Linked DNA regions of Homo sapiens: regions 1 and 3 are each linked to region 2. The links come from fine-mapping of genetic effects on gene expression. A gene starts in region 2. Each other region holds a variant in brackets. All regions are shown on one strand. Distances are from middle to middle.

Region 1 (2,850 bases), 150 kb after region 2:
CTGCAGCTCACATAAAAAGTAAGCAAGAGGGCCGGGCATGGTGGCTCACGCCTGTAATCCCAGCACTTCGGGAGGCTGAGGTGGGTGGATCACCTGAGGTCAGTAGTTTGAGACCATCCTGGCCAACATGATGAAAACTTGGCTTTACTAAAAATGCAAAAAATTAGCTGGGCGTGGTGTCAGATGCCTGTAATCCCAGCTACTTGGGAGACTGAAGCAGGAGAATCACCTGAACCCAGGAGGTGGAGGTTGCAGTGAGCCACGATCACACCTTTGCACTCCAGCCTGGGCAACAAGAGCGAAACTCCGTCTCATTAAAAAAAAAAAAAAGTGAGCAAGAAACAATCTTTTTTAAGTATTGAGATTTTTGGAGTTATTATTGCTGAATAATATAGTAGAAGCTGACTGATATACTTATCAAAAATAAAATGTTTTAAATGTTTCAGTAAAGTTCCTCAGTTACCTTCAGTACTCTTTCATTGATAAATCTTTCTTGGTTATACTGTATATACACTATAGGTATACTGTGTTCGAAGTACAGGAAGCTTCCATTCTTGTGGGGCAGAGAGAGAAGAAAGGAAGTGCACAATTAAAATAATTGTGTAATAATTTCATGAAGGAGAGAAATAAAGTGCTGGGGATGGAGGTTTAGGGAATCTAGAAAGGGTGGTAATGAAAGATCTCCTTGAGAAAGTGACATTTAGACCAAGACCTGAAGTATGAGAAGCTGGCTATATGAAGAGCATTCTAGGTCAAGGAACAGAAAATGCAGAGTCTCTGTGTGTCTCCTCAGCTTCCAACTTGACTGGTGTCTAAAAGATAATTATGTTCTAAGACATTTCCTGAAAATCACTTCAGAAGTTAGACTTGATCTTAGTCCATTAGAAATGCATGGGATTGCACTGCCTTTCTTAAATAGAGCAAAATGTAAAAAGAATCTTCTCATTTGACCATAGCATACTGGGCATAGGAATATCGAGGGATAATGGTAGCAAATGCAGAAACCAAGGTGAAGGGTAATTTTACTTTCTCTGTCTGAACAATATCCCAAGGCAGCCTCCCTGCTAGTCATTTCCTAGTTAGTTAGAAATTTCTTGTCCTCCCAAGAGTACTCTGGAGCAGGTCTCACAGAGTTCAAAATCATATAAATAAATAAATAAATAAATAAATAAATAAATAAATAAATA[AATAAATAC/C]TATGGAGTATCAAACAACTCTACAAAAAGTCCCATGCCACTGAGGACCTACGCTTTCTAGGATTAACTCCAAACTTGTTTGGGAGGAGTAGGGTCTGGTGTTCTGCTGGATATTAATTGTCTAATCATGTCACGCACACAAATGCTTCCAATAGAATTGTGTTCATCCTGCATCTGGAACAAAGCTGGAGAACTGCCTGGACCAGATTTCCAAATTCTCGGTTCCTCTTAATGTTGACACTGACATGGATCTGTGGAGAGAGGACTCTCATAGCCACCTGTGTAGGCAGGGAGATTAACAGGAAAAGCAATTAAATTCATCTCAATTCAGATGACTTCTCCCAAATTGCCATTCCACCACCCTTTCTCTCCCCTAAGGGAAAAGATGCAGGAAAATAATTCTTGACTTGGCTTTGTACTCTAAATTCTGCATTTCTGTGACCCCTAGCTCTACGAGTATGCAAAGCTGGGTTGGGAAGACAGCCAACTCTTTGCCTATTGCACCTGGTCCCTTAAAAGATAATTTATATATGAGGCAAAGGAAGGCATTGGGAGTGTTCTCTCTAAAAGGGGAAAAATGCTTTTAACTTTTACAGACATAATCTATAGACAGCAGCAGACAATTTATATATATAATTTCCCACTTGATGTAGTAGTTAAACTATTTTATCTGGCTTTTGCAATGATAGAAAACACTCCTATATGGCTCCAATGTATCCACAATATAAAGTAGAAATAGAATATAGACAGATAAAATTGCATAATGCTGTCATGAGGGTGATTTGAGAAACAGTTGCTACATTCCATTAAGAGCAGGGAGAGTACCTGCAGTCTTCTTAGAAGAAGCTATTATAGTCTAATTAGTGATGTAGGTAAATACACCAAGCCCTTCTGATTTTTCAAATTTATTTCATAAATGAATTTAAGGCACAATTTAAAAAATACAGTTAGTATTAAAGTAAATAGCACTTTTCTTTTCTCTTTAGCAAAATGGATGTAAAGCAACATAGTTTGTAAACCATTTCCCTGGCTAAAATGCTAATTACTACAAACAAACTAATCATCATTTGAATGAAGAGTATTCAGACTGAAAAACAGGAATACTAAGGTAATTGCTAATTATGCCAATTTAAAATTGGTTGTCAAATATCAGTGTAAAATAAATGTGAAAAATTAAATAAAAGCCCTGTATACAATTCATGTAAAATATAGGACATTTACAAAATGTGTGCTATGGTTGAGTGACTTTGAAAGATAATACTGAAAAACAAATTTGGGGATGTACTGGATGTCCAATTAAAACAATGTTTTTATTGTTATTTATTTGTAACTGTAATATTAATATGTTCATTTCATATTTATTTATATTTTTTAGCTAAAACATAGAAGTACTTAGTACATGCCTTTCTTTGGATGACCTACTTAACAAGATAGCTTATTCTTACATTAACTGTCTTACCTAATTGTCTTCCATAATATAAACACCCTTCCATTAAATCTTTTAGTTGTTTTAGCTGATCTAGTGAAGTTGAAGTGGTTAGTATTTAGATGTTATTTTCTGTAGTAATGATCTAAACAGAGTAGAACAAAATAAAGGAATTTTATGTACTTAAAAAATAATGTTTTAAAAAATCCCTTCACTTTTACTTACTAAT
Region 2 (2,500 bases):
CCGCCCCTCCCACCTGCCAGCCCCCACACCCACTCTAGACGTGCAGCAGAATGAGGAAGGTTATAAAAGGAAGCTCTCTCTCTCTTCTAACATTCCCCTCCAGAAAAAGAGGAACGCAACGAAGGGAGTTCAGCTACTATGTTGGAGCTGTGGACCGGCCCTGTGAGGCCCACGCGGGAGCGCGGAGGCTCCTGGGTCTCAGGGCGCCGGCAGATGGCCTGCAGCGCACCGCCCGGCCCCCGCGCTGGCCACGTCCGCCAGCGTCATCTCTCTCCCCCGCCTCCTACCCCTAAAAATCCGGCGGTCGAGTAGCTCCGCATCCCGGAGGGCTCCCGGTGCAAAACTGAGTGGGAAAGAGAAAGGGGCGGAGAGCGACGAGAGAGGGAAGGTGGGGAAGAAGAGCCCGGCCGCCCCCGGCCTTTTCCGGCGAGCTCTGAGTTTCCAGGGCTCATCCGCCCCTCCAAGTCGAATTACAGAAACTCCTCATTGCCATGCTAATGACGAGAGGGGCTGTGGGGAGAGGGTTTCGAAGACCCTCCTGGAAGAAGGGAAGTTTCTTTTCTTGCCCTCGTCTCCTTCACGCCCACCCGAGTTCCTCCCAGCCAGCCCTCTGCGCTCTTCCCCCTCCATTCCGAGCTTGAAGAGCCGGTGGCCCAGCCTCGCCCTCCACCACGGTTCTATGCGCTCCTCACAGCCCCACGGTCTCCCAGCCCAGCCTCAGAACAGAGGAGGTGGCCTGGGAACCCGGGGCGCGGTGTCAGCCGGATTCCCCGCCTTCCGGCTGGGCGCGCTGCGGGCTGGGCCGGCGTACTTGCGGCCACCCGGCGAGCTCTGGCCCACTGATTCCCGCCCCGAGAGAGCCGGGAGCCCTCTTCCCTTCTCACCTCTCGCCAGTTCATCTTTCATTGAACGGTGGGGAGGGGGCGGGAGCGGGGGACGCCTCCCAGCCCCCACCTCCCGGAGGCCTGGCGGGGCGGGCAGCGGAGTCGGGCGCGCGCAGAACGCAGCTTTTGCTCTTCTTCGCTCCAGCACTCCAAATCGGCCTTTGCAGTCGCCGCAGCAGCTGCCGCCGCCTAGGCTGCCTGGGGGGGCGACTGCGCGTCACCTAGACGGCGGAGCGCCGGGGATTTAAATGCCACTAAAACGGTGATCCATCACTGCGGAAGCCGGCAAACTTTTGCAGGAGGCTCAGCCATTGGCTGACACCGTCACGTGCCCCTCCTCCAGCGTCCTCCGCCCTCCCGCCCCCCCTCTTGCGCACTGTACATTCATATCATTTTTCTTCTCCGGCCCCATGGAGGAAGTGAGAAAGTTGGCACAGTCACGCCGGGCTTCGCAGGACCAGGTCACTCAGTGACAGATGGACAATGCAAGAATGAACTCCTTCCTGGAATACCCCATACTTAGCAGTGGCGACTCGGGGACCTGCTCAGCCCGAGCCTACCCCTCGGACCATAGGATTACAACTTTCCAGTCGTGCGCGGTCAGCGCCAACAGTTGCGGCGGCGACGACCGCTTCCTAGTGGGCAGGGGGGTGCAGATCGGTTCGCCCCACCACCACCACCACCACCACCATCGCCACCCCCAGCCGGCTACCTACCAGACTTCCGGGAACCTGGGGGTGTCCTACTCCCACTCAAGTTGTGGTCCAAGCTATGGCTCACAGAACTTCAGTGCGCCTTACAGCCCCTACGCGTTAAATCAGGAAGCAGACGTAAGTGGTGGGTACCCCCAGTGCGCTCCCGCTGTTTACTCTGGAAATCTCTCATCTCCCATGGTCCAGCATCACCACCACCACCAGGGTTATGCTGGGGGCGCGGTGGGCTCGCCTCAATACATTCACCACTCATATGGACAGGAGCACCAGAGCCTGGCCCTGGCTACGTATAATAACTCCTTGTCCCCTCTCCACGCCAGCCACCAAGAAGCCTGTCGCTCCCCCGCATCGGAGACATCTTCTCCAGCGCAGACTTTTGACTGGATGAAAGTCAAAAGAAACCCTCCCAAAACAGGTCAGTCCTGCTGGTTGGTGGATGCTCCTTGATTATTCTGGAAGGAGCTGGTATGCTTAATTTCCAAGGAAATTAATAATGATCTTTTTTTTAAAAGGCTTTTGTATCAGACTAGTGTTGTAGTGCATGGAGAGGGTGCCCAGAGGTGTTGGGGCAAAGAAGTCTCAGGGATTGGTGTGTTTTCAAGGATTTTATACATTTGGGAAATAGGAAGTATGTGGGGGTGGTTATTGTGACGGTAGTGTTCTGTTAATATCTTGAGGCTCCATTAATCACCGGTCTGACCATGCTAATGGTTTACATCAGGTTAACACTTTACACCTCATCACTCACCCTCCACAGCCCGATTTGTGCTGAGTTCTTGATCTTTTCTTTACCTGAGTGTTGCCATGAAGCGTGTGGGGAATCTCAAGTCGATTTAAAAATTTTTACATTTCCGTCTCATGGCTTCCCACTTTGCCCCAGGGAAAGTTGGAGAGTACGGCTAC
Region 3 (2,850 bases), 170 kb after region 2:
AAAGAAAGTGGAAACAGGAGGTCTGTAGTGAAGAGGTGTCTAACAGCTCATATTTGTCATTTGAAGAGGTAAGGCAGCTATGAATGGGCTTAGGTTAATGTCAGTATCCAAGGGGTTTAATCTGGTGTTTAGGACACAGTAGCAGAAACCTCTAGTGAGGAATGGTTATCAGAGTCATTCATTCATTCAACAGATATTTACCAATCACTTGCTGTGAACCAATGAGAATCTATTTTATGTGCTAGGGATAGTGCAGTAAAATAACAGCACATTCTCTGGCTTCATATTACTTACATTTTAGTAGAAGATCAATCCAGTTTAGAACAGAAATCTAGTCTGTGGGCCTAAGTGATCAGCAAAGGCTTGGCAGTGAATCAGGCCCAAGATTCGAATAGAACTCTTCTTCCAGTAAGAGATTCCAATATCACCTTAGAAAATCCTAGCAGAGGTCTGATCAGAGTGGGAAAAATACCTACACTAGGATGAAGGACCAGAGGGCCATAGGCAGGCTTGTGAATTTTTACTTTGCTATAGACAGCAAGACTAACTCCACACCCCTCTTGGTGCTGGTCATGATTAGTTTAGGAGAGGAGTGGGGTTGAACAGATAGTAGGAGGCCATTTGTGCCTGCAGCAGATCTAGACTTAGGGGAGAAGGAAAATGACATCTCTCCTCTAAAATGCGGATTCCTTCCCTCAGAGTCTCTACAGTAATCTTTTATGGGAGTGATATGACAGGTAAGTGGTAGAGTTGTGAGCCTTCAGGGAGAGAACTAACTTAAAAGCACTCTGAAATATTGCCAAACGGCATTCATATGTAAGGCATTAGAATAATAATGATAATTATTGCTTGTAGTAACTGATGTCTGAGAGGGCATCAACCTGGTATGGTAGCAGGTGACACAGAAGGAGAAGAGACCATGAACATACAATGAGCTCATTTCTCTTCTGCTCAAGGAACCCAAGTAATTACAAAACTTCAGCATATGTTTTGCATTACACATGTGGCTCTGTCAAAAATGATGGAGTGGTGTCACTTTATGTCTCTTTGAACTAAATGAGAGAGAGAGATGAGAAGTAAGTAGGCAAGAGACTGTATTTGATTTTATCTTTCTGCTTAAACTGTGTTTTCAATTTATAAACCAATTGGATACAAAATACTTATTACAGAACATGACTCTTTCCTTTTATATTAGAGGAGTTATCAACAGAGTGGTTTCTTGTGCTTATTAGAATCTTTGTTCAAATAAAGCCAAGTAAGAAAAATGGGTTGGGCCTCATCTGTCAGAGGGCAGAGGTAAGAAATAAGTAGACAAAGCACAGTATCAGAATGCATTTGACTGCAAGAAATAGAAAAGTCATCTGTACAGGCCTAAACAAATGAGCTTTGTATTTCTAACATAACAAGAAGTCTGGAGGTAGGCAGTTGCCTGAGTCAGTTCAGTAATCCAATGATTTCAGGGCCAGCTTCTTC[A/G]TCATTTTCCTGGCCAGAATATAGCTACCATGGCTCCAGTCACCATGTCCATGTTCAGGACAAGAAGGAAGACTGGTAGAGACATTCTACTTGTGGAGTCTTGTCTTTTTATTAGCAAGAGAGCCTTCCCTAGTGGACTTTCCCTTTGTCTCCTTGGCCAGGATTCAGTCATGTGCCCACTTATTGGCCAATCCCTGAGGAAAGAAAAGAAAATTACTATGACTGATTTAGACCAATTTCAGCTCATTCCTTGTTGTTGAGGTAGGGGTCTACCCTTCCTGAAATCAAGGGATCTCTTTCAAAAACCTGAATACAAATTGGAGTTTTGTTACCAGGGAAGAAGAGAGAAACATTTCTTGTTTAGACTAGGCACAGTGTCTGCCTTATGTGCCAGTGGATCAAAAAGTGGCTGCACACCCAATTCAGGGTGGGGAGACTCCTGAAAACTTAGTACAAAAAGATTCACAGAACTCTGCACATTAAACTAGAAAGTTGTCCCTGGCTAATCTTGTACTCCAGTATCTCCATTGCAGAGTCTTATGTGGTTCTTTCTTTCTCACTGCAAACTAAAGATGAAGGATTCTTTTGGGAGGCTGAAGTGGGCAGATCACTTGAGGCCAGGAGTTCGAGACCAGCCTGACCAACATGGTGAAACTCCGTCACTACTAAAAATATAAAAATTAGCCGGGCATGGTGGCAGGTGCCTGTAATCCCAGCTGAGGCAGAAGAATCACTGTAATCCCAGCTGAGGCAGAAGAATCACTTGAACCCGGGGGGTAGAGTTTGCAGTGAGCTGGGATCATGCCACTGCACTCCAGCCTGGGTGACAGAGCAAGACTCCGTCTCAAAAAAAAAAAAAAAAAAAAGGATTCTTCAGCCAGTGCATAGCCCACTGCAATGGGTGGTCTCCTGCCCTTTTTCTTTTTCTTAAAATTTGTATTATTTTAATTATTTTTATGTACAGAAATCTCAACAGTGTGCATTTAACCCAGTTTGGTGGCAAGTTCTTTAGCCTTTGCCTTTTCAAGCTTGGCAATGCGAGCCACAGATTTGGGACCCAGGACATTGCCTCCCCAGTGACGGCAGATCTCATCGTATCTGTTGTTGTAGTTGGTCCTGATAGCTTCCACTAGCTTAGCCAAAGCTTCTTTGTCTTCCAAGTTCACCTGTGTGAAGGTGACAGTGATCCAGGTCTTCCTGTGGACTATATGTCCCAGTCTTGCCTTCCTCTTGATAATGCAGGGGAAGAGACCCCCATTTTATGACACAAGGCAGGTAGGAAGACAAGCTTGATGGGATCCACATCATGTACAGTCACCACCAGCTGAGCCTTCTTGTTCTCCACCAAGGTGGTGACGGTGTTAACTCCTGCTTGAA

What was found. PIP is the estimated chance that this variant, and not a neighbour inherited with it, causes the effect.
Region 1: its variant is fine-mapped to the expression of HOXA1 in whole blood (INTERVAL, PIP above 0.99).
Region 3: its variant is fine-mapped to the expression of HOXA1 in whole blood (INTERVAL, PIP above 0.99).

What each region holds. Positions count from the first base shown.
Region 1 is chr7:26,943,486-26,946,335 of GRCh38, reverse strand. No RefSeq gene overlaps it. Among named protein-coding and RNA genes, the nearest start is that of SKAP2, 80 kb to the right of the region's middle. The variant AATAAATAC/C (reference allele first, on the strand shown) is at 1,188.
Region 2 is chr7:27,094,773-27,097,272 of GRCh38, reverse strand. It overlaps HOXA1 (homeobox A1), which reads left to right and starts at 1,273. Exons shown (of 2, transcript NM_005522.5): 1 at 1,273-2,012; 2 at 2,478-2,500. The coding sequence starts at 1,361. It overlaps HOTAIRM1 (HOXA transcript antisense RNA, myeloid-specific 1), which reads right to left and starts at 1,179. Exons shown (of 2, transcript NR_038367.1): 1 at 885-1,179. RefSeq lists enhancers at 311-883, 1,009-1,303, 2,185-2,500 and a silencer at 787-956.
Region 3 is chr7:26,922,519-26,925,368 of GRCh38, reverse strand. It overlaps the pseudogene RPL7AP38. Among named protein-coding and RNA genes, the nearest start is that of SKAP2, 59 kb to the right of the region's middle. The variant A/G (reference allele first, on the strand shown) is at 1,474.